Homo sapiens: one gene and its partners. The protein of the gene in region 1 purifies or fractionates together with the protein of each later gene. This does not show direct contact. Each region holds a gene or a part of one and is shown on either strand. Other genes may lie near its edges. The genes, in order: CPLX2, SNAP25, DHX16, RAP1A and PPFIBP1.

Region 1 (4,072 bases):
AGATCATGCAAGGAATTGGTGAGTTAAGATTGGGATGGGGGTGCCGAGGGAGAATTCCAGGGAGAAGTCCAGACGCTGTAGCTTTGCAATGCTGCCTACATCCCCACCCTCCACTCTGTGACTGCTGCTAATGCCTTGGTTCAGGACCTAGAGATTCTGGATTTATCCATAACCTCTAACTGTCTCTCCCTCAGCTCTCATCCAGCCTCCACGTGGCCATCCAATTAATCTTCCTAAAGGGCAGATTTTCTCATGCATACACACCCTGCAATGGCTCCCCATGGCCTTGTTAAACTGATACGAGTCCTTGTGCTGACCTTCAAGGCCTGCACAGTCTAGCACCCGTCTTCCTTGCTGCTCGTGTGCCACCTCTTGCACAGGGCTCTGCTTAGCACGTATTATTTCCCAACAGATAATCTTTCTGAGAATGCCTGGGCATTTGTGCATGCTATTCCCACAGCCTTGGAACCTCTTACCCTCATCTCTGCCAGTTCAAATCCTGGCTCCATCACTTACTAAGTAACCTTGAGCAAATGACTCAATGTTTTCTCATCTATGAAATGGAGACAACAACACCTATTCCCAAGGCTTGTAGTGAGCATTGAATGAGGTGATGCAAATAAAGTGCTCAGCCCAGTGTTGGCACAAAGTAGGTACATATTATCTAACATCATCGCAGTCATCATTATCATCATCAGCAGCATTGATTTCTGAAGATCTCTCTCAAACAGCACTCCCTCCATGCAATTTCACGGATCTCCTTGGCAAGATGTGAGGGCATCTTCCCCTTTGGAGACCTGTGGCACTTTCTGGGGGCAGTATTGCCTGCCTCCAGTACATGCTCTCTTTGTCTGTTTGTCTTTCTTTGTCTTGCCCTTCCTGGTTACTCTGAGCTCCTCTCAGGACAGGACCAGTATCTTGTTTCATTTCTCCTGTCCCCAGAATTGGCTACATGTCCTGGTACATGGTAGATCCTGAGGACGTGTGTGCCGGGTTGAATTTAACGTGTCAACGAGTGCATGAGGGTGTGTGCGTTGAAAGTATGACCCCGTGTGTGCAACTCTGGACTTAGACATCGTGTGAGTGCGTGCGTGTGTGCAGGGTGTGTGTGTGTGTATGTTTTGCCATATGCCTGCGGGAGTGCTGAGGTCCAGCAGGTTGCCGGCAGTTGAGGATTTGGGCCAGGCCGCCAGGAGGCGCTCCTTAGCGATTCTGCGGGAAGCCTTGGTCTATCCCTGCGCGGGAAGGGGGGTGAGGGTGGGGGTGGGTGGGAGTGGGGGTGGGTGGGGGATGCTGCGCTGGGGGAGGGGAGGCCGGGGGCGGCGAGGGATGCCGTCGTAGCACCAGGTTTCCGTACCTTCAGTGCGCCGGGGACCCAGGGCGCGCCTTCAGCTTCCTTCCCCTCTCCGACTCCCTCCGAGCCCGTCCCAGCCCAAGCACCGACTCAGGCTCGACCATCTGAGCCCCTAGAGGTTTTCGGGACTGGGCCCCGCCATCTGACAGGCTGACTCGGGTAACCTGCAGTGGTTGTCCTTATGGCCGTTTTTCTGTTTTTATGATTCAAGTCTGGGCTATATTCACCGCAACTCAATTCAACACTCATTTGCTTCTGGCAGGGGACTACGCCAAAGGCAGTGGCAGAGACAGGGGATGTCACTCCACCCCCTCCCCCCGCCCCGTCCCCACCCCGTGGCCCGGGATGGGAGACGCATGGGGGAGGGGAGGGGCAGCGGAGGATGGGAGGAGGTAGGGAGCCGACTCCGGCTGAAAAGCGGAAGTGGCCGGGGGTTCCCGTTTCCCGGCCAGAAGAGAGGACAGGAACCCCGGCGCCCCTCTCCCGGACCCCCGCGGAGACCCACACCCCCAGCAGCTCTGTCCTGGATCTCCCGGTGGGCCACGGAGAGCGCCCCTTCCCCCAACACACATAGCTCCAACCCCAAGACCCGGCCCGGTTTCAAACTTTGCTGGGGAAGGGGGCAGATTGAGGCCGACGAGAACGAGAGCACAGAAGGGGTCGTTCCCGAAGACTCCAGGCGGCGGGCGTGCGCTGTCCAAGCGGCGGCTCCTCCCGGAAAGGGACAAATAGTCCCCTTGGTCCCCCATCCCCTGTCAATGTCTACGTTCTCCTCCCCTCCACCTGCGGTCTGTCCGCCCCCCTGCCGCCGCCCTCTGACTCACTCCGGGAGTGCGCACTGTACCCCTGGGGGCGACTCCCTCCTCCGGGGCGAAGCGTGCTCCGGCGGGCTTCGGGTTAAGCACAGCCAGAAGTAGCTTAGATCGACGTCCCCCACTCCCGCGAGCTCAAAGTTGTTCTCTGGGTTCAGACTTGAGTCTCCGCCGCAGCCGGGGCGGTCCTGGCTCCGGGACCCCGGCCGTTCGGGCTCTGCCCGGAGTCTCCGGCTAGGGCCCACGCTTCCTCTTAGTTCGCAGCTAGCTGCCTGCTCGCGGCCCCTCGCAAGGAGCTGTCCTTTCAGCACCACGGAGAGCGCACCCGGGAGTGTCCCCTTTACCGCCTCTCAGTCCCCATCCGGTGCCCAGGCAGCCTTGGGGAGCTGTCCCCCCGAAAGCCGTGCTCCCCAGCTTCCCGAGCTGCCCCAAGGCCTCGAGGCGAGAGCCGGGACCCTGTTGCCCACAGCCCAGCTCCGCCCTCCCGGCCCTCGGCCAGCACCGACCTGGCGGTCCCTGCAACCGTCTGAGCCACTGCAGGGCTCCGGCCCGACTCCACGAGGTGGTTCCTTCTGCTATTCCAGCTCCCGCCGCCGCGTGCAATTCCGCCAGGCGAGCTGGAGCCGCGGCTTCTGCCGCGGGCGGCTGCCGAAGGCGCCCTCCAATCACGCCCCTCAGCCGGGCCCTGACGTTCTACCGCTCCCCTTCCAGATGGGAAATTCAAATCTCTCTCTCTCTCTCTCTCTCTCTCTCTCTCTCTCTCTCTCTCTCTCTCTCTGTCTCTCTCTCTCTCTCTCTCTCCTCTCTCTCTTTCTCTCCCTCCCTCCCCCCTCGTCCCCTCCTTCTCTCCCTCTCTCCCTCCCTCCCGTCTCCTTCTCCCTCCATTCCTCCCCCTCTTTTCTCGCTCCCCTCCCCTCTCTCCTCCACCTTACACTGTTCTCCTCCCCCTCGCAGACGCCCCTGCCGCCTCCCTGCAACCAGACATCCTGGCCACAGCTCCAGGCCCACAAGCTTGCTGCTCCTGAGGAGTGGTGGGGGCAAGGGGTGGAGGAAGGGTTCTTTAAAGCAAAGCTCAAAGTTCACCTCCTTGGGAAAGCCCTCCTTGGTTTCTCCAGGCAGAGTGGTTGCACTTCTTGCGGCTCCTGCCACTCCCAGACAAGCCCTTGCCTCAGCGACCCCCGTTCCACCTGTTGGTTTGCCTCTTGCCTGTGAGCAGCTCCAGGACTGGACCTTGGCCAGGTCATCTTTGCAGCCCCCCAGCACAGTGTCCAGCCACAGGAGCACTCAGGAAACACTGATGGAGCGTGTGGGCAAGACCCTCGCAGTGGGTCAGGAACCTCCACTGCGCACCCAGAAAGAGAAGACTGATGCAAAACTGCAGTGGACCTTAGGCAAGCCACTCGCCAATCCCTTTGAGATCTGATATCCTGTGAAGAATAAGGACTCCTCTGGCAAAATTTATTCTAGAAGGCCATTTCTTTTCCTCCTATGCCCAAGAAAGTAAAAGGACTTCCAAGAGGCAGGACAACATCTGCTCCCACCCCCAGCCTTTCCTCTTCCCCTTGCACTCATTTTTGTTTTGTTTTGTTTTGTTTTATTACTCTCACCTAATGAGCCTTTTTATTCTGCCTGCCATCTTTCGGCTCCCAATTACTCCAGCCCGATGTGTAGGAAAATGGCTTCGGAGAGGAGGGGCCTTGCACAAGGCCTGTGAAAGATCTGCAGGAGTTTCACATCCATCAAGGTATGTCAGAGTGGAGATGGCTTCTCCTTCTAAGGGGATGGCTTCCTTCCAAGGAAGGGGCAACAAGAGCTGCAGAAATGTGATTTTGTTCCAGTGAGGGAGAACTTATCCCTTCACACACGATCACAGCAGAGGCCTTAAAGCAGGAGACCCCCCCACCAG
Region 2 (3,530 bases), on another chromosome or scaffold:
AGGCTTATATATGATTTATCTTTCTATCCTAGAAAGACACTCAATGACTTCTGTGGTAGGCATTCACATCTGTTGGACCAAGTTGAATTACACTTCTTATACTGTAGGATTGAAACCATGGCTAATTTATTAGCAGTGTCCCTTTGAACAAATTACATCTTGGGGGCTCAGCTTTCTCTTCTCCAACCTGGATGATAAAAAATATTGCTAATGAGCATGAGCATGTACAGTGGACCCTTGGACATCATGGGTTTGAATGGTGTGGATCCACTTTTGTGTGAATTTCTTTCTTCCTTTTTTTTGAGACAGGGTCTTGCTCTGATGCCCAGGCTGGGGAACAGCGGTGTGATCATAGCTCATTGCACCCTTGACTGCCTGGGCTCAACTGAGCCTCCCATCTCAGCCTCCTAAATAGCTAAGACCACAGGTGCATGCCACCATGCCTGGCTAATTTTTCTATTTTTTGTATAGATGAGATCTCACTATGTTGCCCAGGCTGGTCTCAAACTCCTGGGCTCAAGCAGTCCTCCCTCCTCAGCCTCCCAAAATGCTGAGATTACAGGCATGTGCCATTGTACCTGGCCAGGATTTTTTTTCAATAAATACACTGGAAAATGCTTTGGAGATTTGCAACAATTAAGACAAACTTGCAGATGAATGTGTTACTTAGAAATATTGAGAAAATTTAGAAAAAATTAGGCATGTCATGAATGGATAAAATATATGTAGATACTAGTCTAGTCTATTATTTACTATCATAAAATACATATAAATCTACTATGAAAAGTTAAAATTGATGAGACTTAAACAAATATAGACCATACATGGGCCTATTTGCAGTTGAGAGAAATGTAAAGGTGAAGTATTAAATCATAATTGTATAAAATTAACTGTAGTCCATACTGTACTACTCTAATAATTTCATAGCCACCTCCTATTATTGTGGTGAACTCAAGTGTTGTGAGCATCCGTTTAAAATGCTCTGTGATACTAATCATCCTCACCATCTCTCCAGTAAATTGCATAGTGCAGTAAAAAGTGATCTCTTGCAGTTTCACATTTAAAAAAAATCATGTTTAGTGCAATACTGTAAACCTTGAATAACATCATGCACCCATACAAAGTGCCACCAGTGATGCTAGCAGTGCTCCCAAAAAGCAAAAAAAAGTCACGACATTTCAAGAAAAAGTTGAATTGCTTAATGTGTACTGAAGATTTCAGACTGATGATTCATCTTGTAAACAAATGATATAAACTGATGGTATCAATAAATACAGCATAGTATTATAAATGTATTTTATCTTCCTTATGATTTTCTTAATAACATTTTCTTTTCTCCAGCTTACTTTATCATACGAATACAGTAAATAATACATAAAACATAGATGTTAATGGACTTTTTATGTCATTAAGGCTTCCAGTCAACAGTAGGCTACTAGTAGTTAAATTTTGGGGGAGTCAAAAAATTTTCAGCTGCATGGGGGTTGACACCCTAAATCTCCATGTTGTTCAAGGGTCAACTGTACTTTGTTCCACTCATTAAACTTTGACAACATCAAGATTAACAATATCAACTATAAAGTGTGTACTATTATTAGCTCACTTTTCCAAATGAGAAAAGCAGTCAGAAACGATCTGGGGAATTTGTCTGAAGTCTTAGTACTAATAAATGGAGAAACCAGAGTCTGAATGCTAGCAACCTGGAGTCAGAGTCCACACTATTCATCACTTACTATTCAATTTGCTGAGATCAAATGAGTTTATACACATAATGTGCTTGGAATAATGTTTTGCAAAACGAAGGGCTCATTAGTTTATCTTGCAATTATTGTTACCGTATGAGAACTTGGCTTGCTTCTGGGATGCTTAATAGTTTTTAAGTTGCATTTCTGAAGATTCATTTCTATGAGTTTAATAACTGTCTTTTCTTTAACAGATGCACATTTACTATGATTTTGTAACTGGCTGGCTTTAATCTCTTGGTTGATCTCTTTACTGCTTGGGTTATGTTTGCTGTATATGCAGCATGAAACCTAGGGCTGCTACCAGCATAAATCTTTAAATTCCAGAAAATGAATGATTCCCATCACCACTGAGAAAAATGCATCAGCAACCAGAGGTGAAGACAACGATTCTATGGAGGCTTTTCTTTTGTCCTTCCCTGACTGGTAATGCTGTCTATCCTTCTACAGCCTGGGAAGAAGAGGAGGAGGCTGCCAGGCAGTGTGGGGAAACCAAACTGTTTTTCTCTCAACCAGTATCACTCAATGATTACCAGCTTTGTACCTATTGTGGTGCTGTACTTCCCAATTTTTATTGAGCTGAGTCTTCTGTATTCAGTTCATATCGTGAATTCTCAGGACATTAGAATTATCCATGTTCAAATAGAAATTTGCAAAGTTAAAACAAACATATTTCCAGATTAATCATAACTTTGAATACCTGGCAATGGTTCTCTGTCATCTGTTTGGATAATTGACACTTGTCTTTTAAAATCAGTATTTACATAGTAAGATAGGGCATTGATTTTGATTGTTTTGAACTACAGACTCACATTTTTGACCTCAGGTTTCTCAATTGGAAAATGGATAATCTCACCAATTTTACTTGGTTCTTAAGCCCTCCCTTTCCAGCTACAAATGGTATCAGAAATAATGACACTTCAGTGCAAAGGAAAGTTACAGGATCAGAGCAATGTGAAATGTTCCTGTAGATTGAATTATTATGTTGCCAGACTAAATGCTCTGAAAAGCTCAAATGAGAAAAATAATTCATTTTAAAATGATGGCATTCCTGAGCGCAAACATTCTAGGATCTCCTGTACAAGAATGCACTGAGGGGCCTTCACCTGGGGATATTTGAAGTAGAGCATGAGGTTACTCTGTATATCCTTAAAGGATCTGGGAGGAGCTGAAACAGACTTATGTTCAATGAGCATCTGTGATTTCCACCTAACTTACTTCTGAAGCATATGAAAATTCCACCCCATGCAATATTTGACACAGAAAGTACTGCCCCTTTATTATATAAAAGAATTAGCTTCTTTTAAAAAAAAAAAAAAGTCTGGAATCTCCTTGTAGATGTCTTCCTGGTATTTGGAGAATGCCCCTATGATCACCCTACTTATATGCTGTAGGACTTTATTTATGATGGCTGTCCCATTCCAATTTTTATATTTCTATTTAGAAAATTCTAAATTTGCTGGAGTGCCCAACATATGTTACATGTTTGTCCTTGTGAGAAGGCCAGGATGACCACCAAAGAGCCAGTAAAAGTTTAGAAGGAGCTGTTCAGCCCATCTTCTGAACGCTCCGGGAATCTCTTCAACTTCAGACCATGCCAGGTGACTTTTAGAACCCAGTTCATACTTCCAGCCTGTTCTGATCCTAGGTTTGAACAGTTCTCTTACTATCCTTCAGGTGAGGCAATCAGGTCACAGAGCTGGTGAATGGCAAAACCCTGTTAGAACTCAAAGTCTTAGCTCTCAAATGCTGTGTTTTCTCACTGATAGAAGAATGTGAGGACTGCTA
Region 3 (3,530 bases), on another chromosome or scaffold:
TGTGATCACAACTTCCTCTACTGCAAGGTCAAAGCCCCTCTGGTGGCTGGGTGGGCGTGGTGACTCACACCTGTAATCCCAGCACTTTGAAAGGCTGAGGTGGGTGGATCACCTAAGGTCAGGAGTTAGAGACCAGCCTGGCCAACATGGTGAAATCCCGTCTCTACTGAAAATACAAAAATTAGCTGGGCATGGTAGTGGGCACCTGTAATCCCAGCTACTCGGGAGGCTGAGGCAGGAGAATCATTTGAACCCGGGAGACGGAGGTTGCAGTGAGCTTAGCTCACGCCATTGCACTCCAGCCTGAGCAACAAGAACAAAACTGCATCTTTAAAAAAAAAGCCCCTCTGCTGTTCTACCCTTAAGGGGCCTGGTTCTATTTAGTTGTTTGGCTTTTCTTGTTTGTTCTGTAAAGACTTAAAATGCAGTTTATGATCATGACCTAATCTGGGTACCACAGTCAAATATTCCTTCCATGGAAGAGCCAGATAGATTTTTTTTTTAATATGGGCAAAAAATCAGAGCCATTTGAGCATTAAAAAGAATAATGATGTGAGATTATAAAATACTGAAAAATAAAAATTCATGAGTCCAATTTGACACACACAAACAAAAAACAAGGGAAAAAAATCTGTCACCAGTGAAATGACTGTTACAGCAAACGCCTTACTCTAAAAATTCGTATTTAAAAGGAAACAAACATTTACCCTTTTTAAGAAGGAACTGTAGCTTGTTCCTAGTTGTTGAGGAAAAGCTCTTCTTTATAGACAAATTCTAGCCAATACACGTAACAGGAATGACAGAATCAAAAAATCACCATTTCGGCCGGGCGCGGTGGCTCACGCCTGTAATCCCAGCACTTTGGGAGGCTGAGGCAAGAGGATCACGAAGTCAGGAGATCGAGACCATCCTGGCTAACATGGTGAGACCCCATCTCTACTAAAAATACAAAAAATTAGCCGGGCGTGGCAGCAGGCGCCTGTAGTTCTAGCTGCTCAGGAGGCTGAGGCAGGAGAATGGCATGAACCCGGAAGGCAGAGCTTGCAGTGAGCCGAGATCGCACCGTTGCACTCCAGCCTGGGCGACAGAGCGAGACTCTGTCTCAAAAAAAAAAAAAAAAAATCACCATTTTGCAATCCCCAATAAAAATAACATGTTCAGGAAAGGATTACCAGTGGCTTCTAAAAGCATTTGATGAAAGGCTATTGGTAGAAAGGATATTAATACTAATATATAGATACACAACTGGATAGTATGTCCCCGTGATATGACATAATATGAAGTGCACATCACCGCCCAAGAAGTGTTCCTGCCACAACTGTTTAATCTGAGTGTCAATAAGCTTTAGACCCAATTCCTGCTTCAAAGAAAGCACAGGGCAGAGAAGTACTTAACACCACAAGATAAGAATCAGGCAAATCCAGAATGTAGGACACTGCAAGGTGAGACAGACAGAGAGAGAAACAAACTTAACATCTAAGACCCAAATGCAATGCATGAACCTTGACTGCATTCTTGTTAGGAAAAAGCAGTCATTAAAGTTATTTTGAGGGTAATGAGGGTATCTTTTATTGTAGAGAGATCTTAGTCGATACATAAGAATTACTGTTCAACTTCCTGACTGTGACAAGAGCATTCTGATTTTAGAGGACAATATCTTTATCCTTAGCAGGTACACACTGATGTACTTAGAGATAAAACGCCATGATGTCTAAGACTCTTTTAAATGGTCTGAAAAGAAAAAACATACCACATTTACAATTACAATGCAAATACTACCCATAGTATTAACCATTTTTCAATCTGAATAGTGTCTATGAGTGTTCTTTGTTCTATTCTTTCAACTTCCCTATGTGCTTAAATATTTTTGTAATCGAAAAAGAAAAATTACAGCTGGGCACAGTGGCTCACGCCTGTAATCTTAACATTTTGGGAGACCGAGGGGGGTGGATCGCCAAAGGTCAGGAGTTTGAGATCAGACTGGCCAACATGGTGAAACCCTATCTCTACTAAACATACAAAAATCAGCCAGGCATGCTAGTGCATGTCTGTAGTCCCAGCTGCTCGGGAGGTTGAGGCAGGAGAATCACTTGAACCCGGGAGGCGGAGGTTGCAGTGAGCCGAGATCATGCCACTGCACTCCAGCCTGGGCGACAGAATGAGATTCTGTCTCAAAAAAAACCCGAAAAATTAAATTCAGGCCAAAACAGTAACACCACTACCACCACAACTGCACTGAGATGTCCCAGAAGCCTAACCACAGTCAATTTCAGGAAGAGATATGAGATAAATTGGTCAGGAGAGACCTGGGAACCAGTAGGCCATTCTTAGAACTCCAAAAGTTGGCCGGGCACGTGGTGACTCACGCCTATAATCCCAGCACTTTGGGAGGCCGAGGCAGGTGGATCACCTGAGGTCAGGAGTTCAAGACCAGCCTGACCAACATGGAGAAACCCCATCTCTACTAAAAATACAAAATTAGCCAGGCGAGGTGGCTCATGCCTGTAATCCCAGCTACTCTGGAGGCTGAGGCAGGAGAATCGCTTGAACTCGGGAGGTGGAAGTTGCAGTGAGCCAAGATCACGCCACTGCACTTCAGCCTGAGCAACAAGTGCAAAACTCTGTTTCAAAAAAATAAATAAATGAATTTTAAAAAGTAAAAACGGCCAGGCGTAGTGGCTCATGCCTATAATCCCAACACTTTGGGAGGCCAAGGCGGGCAGATCACAAGGTCAAGAGATCAAGACCATCCTGGCCAACATGATGAAATCTCCTCTACTAAAAATACAAAAAATTAGCCGAGTGTGGTACTGCAGGCCTGTAGTCCCAGCTACTCAGGAGGCTGAGGCAGGAGAATCGCTTGATTCCTCCACCAGGGAGGCACAGGTTGTAGTGAGCTGAGATCGCACCACCACACTCCAGCCTGGCAACAGAGTGAGACTCCATCTCAAAAATAAATAAATAAAAATAAAAAATAAAACAAAACAAATAAAAAGAAGGCTGGGCATGGTGGCTCACGCCTGTAATTCCAGCTCTCTGGGAGGCCAAAGCAGGTGGATCACAAGGTCAGGGGTTCGAGACCACCCTGGCCAACATGGTGAAACCCCGTCTCTACTAAAGGTACAAAAAATTAGCCAGGCGTGGTGGTGTGCGCCTGTAATCCCAGCTACTCAGGAGGCGGAGGTTGCAGTGAGCCGAGATCGCATCATTGCACTCCAGCCTCGGTGACAGGGCAAGACCCCGTTTCAAAAAAAAGAAAAAAGGTTTAAAAAAAAAAAAAAAAAAAAAAAGGAACTTCAAGAGTCTCAAAATTCTATTGGGGTATTGGGGAATCTAAGTGTGACTTTACTTGACAAGACCAGGCCTTTGGAAAACAGCTTACCCTACCTAGTTTCACACCATAAAAAGTCCAGTTTATGAATTACAAGGGCTCTGTCCCTGTCCAGTGAGAAGACACAGGGAGATCACAAAGCCACATAAGGGGTGCAGGAATTAGGTGGTGGGAAGGTATTTGGAGATGGTGTGCCTAA
Region 4 (3,500 bases), on another chromosome or scaffold:
GTATACTGCAACAATTTAAAACAGCATAATTACAAGTGAGTAACATTTTTTATTACTTGCTATCCTGACAGAAAACAAGACATAACACAAGTTTCTAGCAACTGAGGTGACTAGAAACAATGACAGTAAACTAGAATTAAAAAGGAATTCTTAACCACTTTAATTTGCTTTTGTGTGATTTAGAGCTGTATATAATTTTTTAGAAACAGATCTTTTGATCCTAAATAATTTTATTTGCAAATTTATGACACAACTACTGCCCAAGTGCTAACAATCTGAGGTATAAGCCCAATACTAAACTATGACTTCATCATCCAGAATCAATATCTCTACTGGCAGATTTTATCATCTTTCTTTTTCTATTCCCATGGCATAGCAATATTTTTATCATCTTGACAGTCAATAAACTCTTTATAAGAGCTTGTTAATGGTCAGGGGCAATGACTCACACCTGTAATACCAACACTTTGGAAGGCCAAGGCAGGTGTATCACCCCAGGTCAGGAGTTCAAGACTAGCCTGGCCAACACAGTGAAACCCTGCCTCTACTAAAAATACAACATTAGCCGGGCGTAGTGGTGCACACCTGTAGTCCCAGCTACTTGGTGGAAGAAGAATCACTTGAACCCGGGAGGTGGAGGTTGCAGTGAGCCAACATCGCACCACTGCACTCAAGCCTGGGCAACAAGAGTGAAACTCTGTCTCGGAAAAAAAAAAAAAAGAGCTTGTTCATGTATTTTCATTTTCCCCCTCATTCCAAACCTTTAGAAAAGATGTGAGAATAGTGCAATGACTATCTATCCCCTTTAGTTAAATTTACTAATGGTTAACATTTAGTTACTGAGCTTTAGTCATGCCAAATTAAAATTACTTAATTTTAAACTTCCTTTTATTTGGTGACAATCATTACTTTATGTTGTAACTATGGAGGTTAATATAAGACAAAATCTTCTTTTAGAAAAGTTTTGGTATTATATATATATATTACTTAAAAAGCACATATGGCAGAATATTAAAAATGTGTATGTCTTGGGTCTTTATATTAAATAACTATACAGTTTGGATCTTTTTACCTCTGGATGCATTAAACGTAAAAGATAAATCCACAAAGTTTCTTAAGCTTGTTGTGCCTTGGCTTCCTTGTTCCCCATGACCACTACCTCTATTTTGTCTACTACATCTAAAATAGTTCTGGTTGTTCTACCCTGGCTGATGTACTCTTTCTTGTATTCCAGGGAGTTAGCTATGCTACCACTCAGCCATTTCCCCAGCTTCAAATTCGTCTAAGGTGTGCCACAGGAACATGGCTGAGCTTCCTATACTGCTGCCAGTGTATTTTCTGGGAAAGATGTAAAAACTGGAAGTTTCCTGGATTTTTCATTGATAAAGTTTGCATATTCCAGAATTGCACCACTATGGTAACCAATTAAATTCTGCCACTGTCCAAATGTTTATATAATAAATGAGTTTACTTACAAATGTTAAGTGCTACAAATACTAGCAACACTATTTCTATGATGTTCTCTAGAGATCATGGTCTCTGCTTCTTATTAAATCAAAAGAATAAACATACAGGCAACCTGAGTTCTGAAAATCCAGTTTAAGAAAAGTCCTTACAGAACTGCTGTGGTTGGTGTTCCCTCCTATTGAGAATGCCAACCTCCTTCTTAAGGACATTCTACAAGTTTCATCCATTCACAACAAATATCCACTGACATAGTTGTAGCCCTATGGATATGTTAGTGATCATGAGAGGCAAAAATTTCTGCCCTGGAGGAGTATACATGGAGACAGACAAAAATCAAGTATGCAAGATGGTAATAAATGTTATAGAGAAAAGTAAAGGTTGGGAGTTTATTTTGAGGGTAGGAATATAAAGTTATATTTTAAAAGACTATGCTCAGGGAAGGCCTCACGGGTAACATTTGAGCAACCATGTGAGGGAGGTGAGGGAATAAGCTCTATGGTTATGTGGAGGAAGACTACCCCAAGCACAGGAAAGAGCAAATGCAAAGGCCCCAAAGGGAAACATGTCTAAAGTGTATGAGAAGCTGTAAGGAGGCTGGATTCATTGAAACATTGTTACCTAGTGGGTGAGTATAGCAGTGGGGGCCAGAGAAGGGACAAAGAGAGAGGATTCTCATTTGGACCTTTCAGGGAAATGTAATAAAGACCTGGGCTTTTACTCTGAGTTTAATGCATAATTTAAGCTGAGGAAAACATGATCTGACTTACATTTAAATGGAATTATGATGGTTACTGTGTGGAGAACAATCTGAAGGGGGTGAAGAAGAGAAGCAGGGAGATCAGTTTTGAGGTTATTGAAATAATCCAGCTGAGAGATGACAACTGTTTAGACCAAGATAGTGTCATTAGATTCTAGTGGTGGTAGCTGAGTTCTGGGTAAGTTTTTAAGGTAAAGCCAGTAGGGTTTTCTGAGAGTTTGGATGTACACATAATATAACAAAAAATACAGTCAAGGACGACTCCATGGTTTCAGGCATAACCAACTAAAAAGGTACTATTTACTGAGATGGGAAAGACTGGAAAGACCCAGGTCAGGGAAAGGTTATCAGGAGTTCAGTTTGGACATGTTATATTTGAGATGCTTATAAGACATACAAAAAGAGATATTGAAGAGGCAGTTAGATATAAGAGCTCGAAGTTCAGAAAAGAAATGAGAGATAGGGATATTGTTTGGATGTTTGTCACCTCCAAACCTTATGCTGAAATGTAATCCCCAGTGTTGGAGGTGAGGCCTGTGGGAGGTATTTGGGTCATGGAGGTGGATCCCTCATGAATAGCTTGGTGCTATCCTCACAATTATGAGTTCTCGTGAGATCTGGTTGTTTAAAAGTGTGTGGCATCTCCCGCTCACTCTTTGCTCTTGCCATGTAAAACACCTACTCCTCTTTGCCTTTCACTATGATTGTAAGCTTCCTGAGGTGTTCACCAGAAGCAGATGCTGGAGCTATGCTTGTATAGCCTGCAGAACCATGAGCCAATTAAACCTCTTTTCTTCATAAATTATCCAGCCTCAGGTATTTCTTTACAATAATGCAAACGGCCTAATACAGACAGGGTTACAAAGTTAGTATTTATCAGCATACAGATTGTATTTAAAACCAAGCAACTACAAGATCTCCAAAGCAGTGTTGTTAGGAAAGAGAAGTGCAAGTATTGAACCCTGAGGTCCTCCAACATTAAGAGGTAGGGGAGATAAAGAGGAATTAGGAAAGGAGACTTAGGAGTAACCAATGAGACAGAGGAAATCAGGCAAGTATTGTTTCTTGGAAGCCAAATGAATAAAGGTTTTACATTAGAAAGCAATGATAAACTGAGTCAAAGGCTGCTGAAAAGTCAAGGGAGTTGAGGATATATTCAAGAGAATTATAAATGATGGACCGTGGACCTGAAGCTATATGCAGAGGGGGTTGAAGATATAAGGGATAATAAAAAGATGTTAGGATAAATGGACTACAGGTTGTAACGAAGTTGAAG
Region 5 (3,530 bases), on another chromosome or scaffold:
TTAACTAAAAGGGTTATTGAGAATCCAGTATTAATATGAGCAAAATGCTTAAAAGGATGTTTGACACATAGCAAATGTGCAACATACTACACATATTAGTATTATTTCACGCAGGTTTATGTGATGTGCTCATCAAGGTAAGGGGCTTGGGTTCAATGACAGAGAAGAAAAATCCATGAACTGAACTCCAAATTTTTTTGACATTGAGAAATGCCTACTTAAGTTGGCTGTTTAAAACTTGCTACTTACTTGAAAAAGATTATACTTAGGGTAGTTAGGTCTATAGCCTACTTCACAAAAAGCTGTTTAAATAAAAGAATTTTAGGCCGGGCACAGTGGCTCACGCCTGTAATCCCAGCACTTTGGGAGGCCGAGGCAGGTGGATCTCCTGAGGTCAGAAGTTCCAGACCAGCCTGGCCAACATGGCGAAACTCCATCTCCACCAAAAACACAAAAATTAGCCAGGAGCAGTGGTGTGCACCTGTAATCCCAGCTACTCGGGTGGCTGAGGCAGGAGAATCACTTGAACCTGGGAGGTGGAGGTTGCCATGAGCCAAGATTGTGCCACTGCGCTCCAGCCTGGGCAGCAGAGTGAGACTCTGTCTCCAAAATAAATAAATAAATAAAAGAATTTTAAGTAGAACAAGGCCAGGCTCGGTGGCTCACGCCTGTAATCCCAGCACTTTGGGAGGCCAAGGTGGGTGGATAACGAGGTCAGGAGATCGAGACCATCCTGGCTAACATGGTGAAACCCCGTCTCTATTAAAAATACAAAAAATTAGCCAGGCATGGTGGCAGGTGCCTGTAGTCCCAGCTACTTGGGAGGCTGAGGCAGGAGAATGGCATGAACCCAGGAGAGGGAGGTTGCAGTGAGCCGAGATCGCACCACTGCACTCCAGCCTGGGCGACAGAGCGAGACTCCGTCTCAAAATAAAATAAAATAAAATAAAAATAAAAATAAAAATAAATAAATAAAGAGAATTTTAAGTAGAACATTAATAGTGGTATGGAACCTAAAACAAAGTTCTCCTGGAATCCATCTTTCTCACTGCTGTAAAGCAGGGAATAGTCCTACACATTGGCTGGAGGGCTAGAAATGTACAATAATGAAGGAACCAGAGTAGAAGTCTAGCCTTCCTCCCTCCTCCTTTAACCCCAGTAACTCCTGCTGTAGCAGAACTAGGCTGAAGTGAGACGGGTGATAGGGTTTCAGGTAACAGTTGTCCAGAGTGGAAAGGAGAAGACAAGTCCTTGAAGATGTCAGGTCAAAAGGGTGGCCTCTTCCAAATGGTCATTGCACATAGAAACCCATAACTTAGAGATAGCTTGGGCTTAAAAATTCTACATTCTATTTAAAAAATATCTTTAGGCTGGGCGTGTTGACTCATGCCTATAATTCCAGCACTTTGGGAGGCCGAGGCAGGCAGGTCGCTTGAGGTCAGGAGTTTGAGACCAGCTGGCCAACATGGCGAAACTCCGTCTCTACTAAAAATACAAAAAAATTAGCTGGGTATGGTGGCGTGAGCCTGTAATCCCAGCTACTCGGGAGGCTGAGGCAGGAGAATGGCTTGAACCTGGGAGGTAGAGGTTACAGTGAGCTGAGATCACGTCATTGCACTCCAGCCTGGGTGACAGAGCGAGACTCCATCTCAAAAGAAATAATACAAAAAAAATCTTTATGAGATATAATTTGCATACCATAAAATGTACCCATTCAAAGTGTACACTTCAGTGTTTACTTTGTTGAATGTATTACATATAAAATCAACCTTCTGGAGAGCTTAGTTTAAATTAGGCTTCACTTAGCTTACATTGGGGTTTCAAATTATCCCAAGCCTGTTCAATCACAATCACCAAATGCTACAACTTCAGCCTCATGGGAAATATGCCTGCCACTCTCCTCAAGTTCAAGCAACAGCTTCAAACTCTGGTGGAATCACTGAAAACACTGTGTTTGGCTTACTCAATTCCTGTGTTTTTCAGAGAAAAAAAGTTTTCCTCCCCCAAACCCCAGGAGTGAGTCACTTACAACAGTCATGTAATGTAGCATTCGACCATCAACCCGTCCTTCATCAAACTGGGTCTTATATTGAGGGAGGCCAATGTCATCCAACCATCCTAAAAGAGAGAGGCCAGTGTTGCTACCATGCCACAAAACATCTGTTCTTGTGATTAAAAAGAAAAAGCAACTATGTATATAATTATTTCATTTTGTTAGAATAAAAACTTCTTACTAGTGACCCAGTTGAAATCCAGCTTCCCATGATTGGTTTCTTCTTCAGATCCCAGGGCTTGGAGTGCTAGCTGGAGTTTCTTTCGATGAAGTGAATGCTTGATTCCAAGTTCCTGAAACAATAAACATTGACTTTATAATTCTATCTGTATAGGCTGGGTGCCACTGGCAAAGGATGCAAATTTCTCCAAAATGAAGCTAGCATTAAAGACCCAATTCAATACTGAATTACAATCCCAACTTGGGCTAGTAAAGTGTTGTTGAACAAAAGGTCCCTGAAAAGCCAAGACCACCACAATTATCTTAGGGGTGTGTTAGGCATTCCCTAGTGACTCATTTTCTTTGTAAGCTAGGAACTGTAGCATGCATAAAAAGAATTTGACTCTTATTTTGTACAAAATATTAAATAATTTGGAAGAAATGTTAAATAATTAGACACAAATTGTAGGGTGCTTTTTTTTTTTCTTTTGCAAAGTGAAGTTAATTGCATATCTTACACTGAGAAAAACAGGCCAATGATAAAGCCAAACAATGATTTCGAGAAATATGAACTGAATTATGCTTATGTAATTCTTTTTCATTAAAATGCCCAATGGCTTAAGTGTTCCATAAGGAATCATCAAGACCAGGTCCTCCCAAGACCACCAGAAAAAAGAAGCATGAAGCAATTGAAAACCCAAACTTTTGTTTACAGAGTTTTTACTGGCTTCACTCATGGCCCTTTCTGGACTATAAAACAACCCTACATTCATACTGTTTTCTTCTCAGTATCCATTGTGTGAACAAAACAGAGAAGCAGTCACCTTCTCTAGATCTTGTTGAGAAGCCTGCAAAAGCGTTTGGCCAGATGCAATCCAGTGCTTGCCAGAATTCAGGTACGAGCCCAAGCCCTGTTCCATCAGCCAATTGCAAACCTGCTCCTTGGTCCACTTGGCAAATGGCATATCCAAGTCACTACAGGAAAATGAGTAATTGCATGAAAAATAATCCAAAGCCAATCCTGTGGCTTATCATTAGTTTTAAACAACTATACATTCAATAGACATGGAAATTCCCTGGTGATACACATTTGACCATGAAAAGCTTAATTTTTAGTATACATTGGAGGAACAACTGGTTGAAAGTTATCTTCTAAGACCACTGTCTTCATTTCAAATGAAACCACAAAAGATTTAACGTGATAGAGCAAGAACAAGTGCTACAGAAAAAGACCAAATTGGACAAACACAAGTCACTGTATCAGTTTTAACCAATGTTGTTTGAAGATTGGATTCCCAAACAGGAAACTCAGTTGGAC

The links.
Region 2: the proteins of CPLX2 (region 1) and SNAP25 purify together in Homo sapiens (co-immunoprecipitation; one study listed by IntAct). This does not show direct contact.
Region 3: the proteins of CPLX2 (region 1) and DHX16 purify together in Homo sapiens (affinity purification with mass spectrometry; one large-scale study listed by BioGRID and IntAct). This does not show direct contact.
Region 4: the proteins of CPLX2 (region 1) and RAP1A purify together in Homo sapiens (affinity purification with mass spectrometry; 2 studies listed by BioGRID and IntAct, with this or other methods). This does not show direct contact.
Region 5: the proteins of CPLX2 (region 1) and PPFIBP1 purify together in Homo sapiens (affinity purification with mass spectrometry; one large-scale study listed by BioGRID and IntAct). This does not show direct contact.

The regions. Positions count from the first base shown.
Region 1 is NC_000005.10:175,870,306-175,874,377, reverse strand, and holds the start of CPLX2 (complexin-2), read right to left. Parts: upstream 2,801-4,072; 5' UTR 2,673-2,800; exon of another isoform or gene 2,179-2,672; intron 1,612-2,178; exon of another isoform or gene 1,358-1,611; intron 1-1,357. UniProt on the Homo sapiens protein: Negatively regulates the formation of synaptic vesicle clustering at active zone to the presynaptic membrane in postmitotic neurons.
Region 2 is NC_000020.11:10,302,314-10,305,843, reverse strand, and holds part of SNAP25 (synaptosomal-associated protein 25), read right to left. Parts: intron 1-3,530.
Region 3 is NC_000006.12:30,666,478-30,670,007, forward strand, and holds part of DHX16 (pre-mRNA-splicing factor ATP-dependent RNA helicase DHX16), read right to left. Parts: intron 851-3,530; exon of another isoform or gene 708-850; intron 337-707; exon of another isoform or gene 1-336. UniProt on the Homo sapiens protein: Required for pre-mRNA splicing as a component of the spliceosome. Contributes to pre-mRNA splicing after spliceosome formation and prior to the first transesterification reaction.
Region 4 is NC_000001.11:111,699,789-111,703,288, reverse strand, and holds part of RAP1A (ras-related protein Rap-1A precursor), read right to left. Parts: intron 1-3,500. UniProt on the Homo sapiens protein: Counteracts the mitogenic function of Ras, at least partly because it can interact with Ras GAPs and RAF in a competitive manner. Together with ITGB1BP1, regulates KRIT1 localization to microtubules and membranes.
Region 5 is NC_000012.12:27,681,203-27,684,732, reverse strand, and holds part of PPFIBP1 (liprin-beta-1), read right to left. Parts: intron 3,188-3,530; coding exon 3,037-3,187; intron 2,347-3,036; coding exon 2,235-2,346; intron 2,119-2,234; coding exon 2,030-2,118; intron 1-2,029. UniProt on the Homo sapiens protein: May regulate the disassembly of focal adhesions. Did not bind receptor-like tyrosine phosphatases type 2A.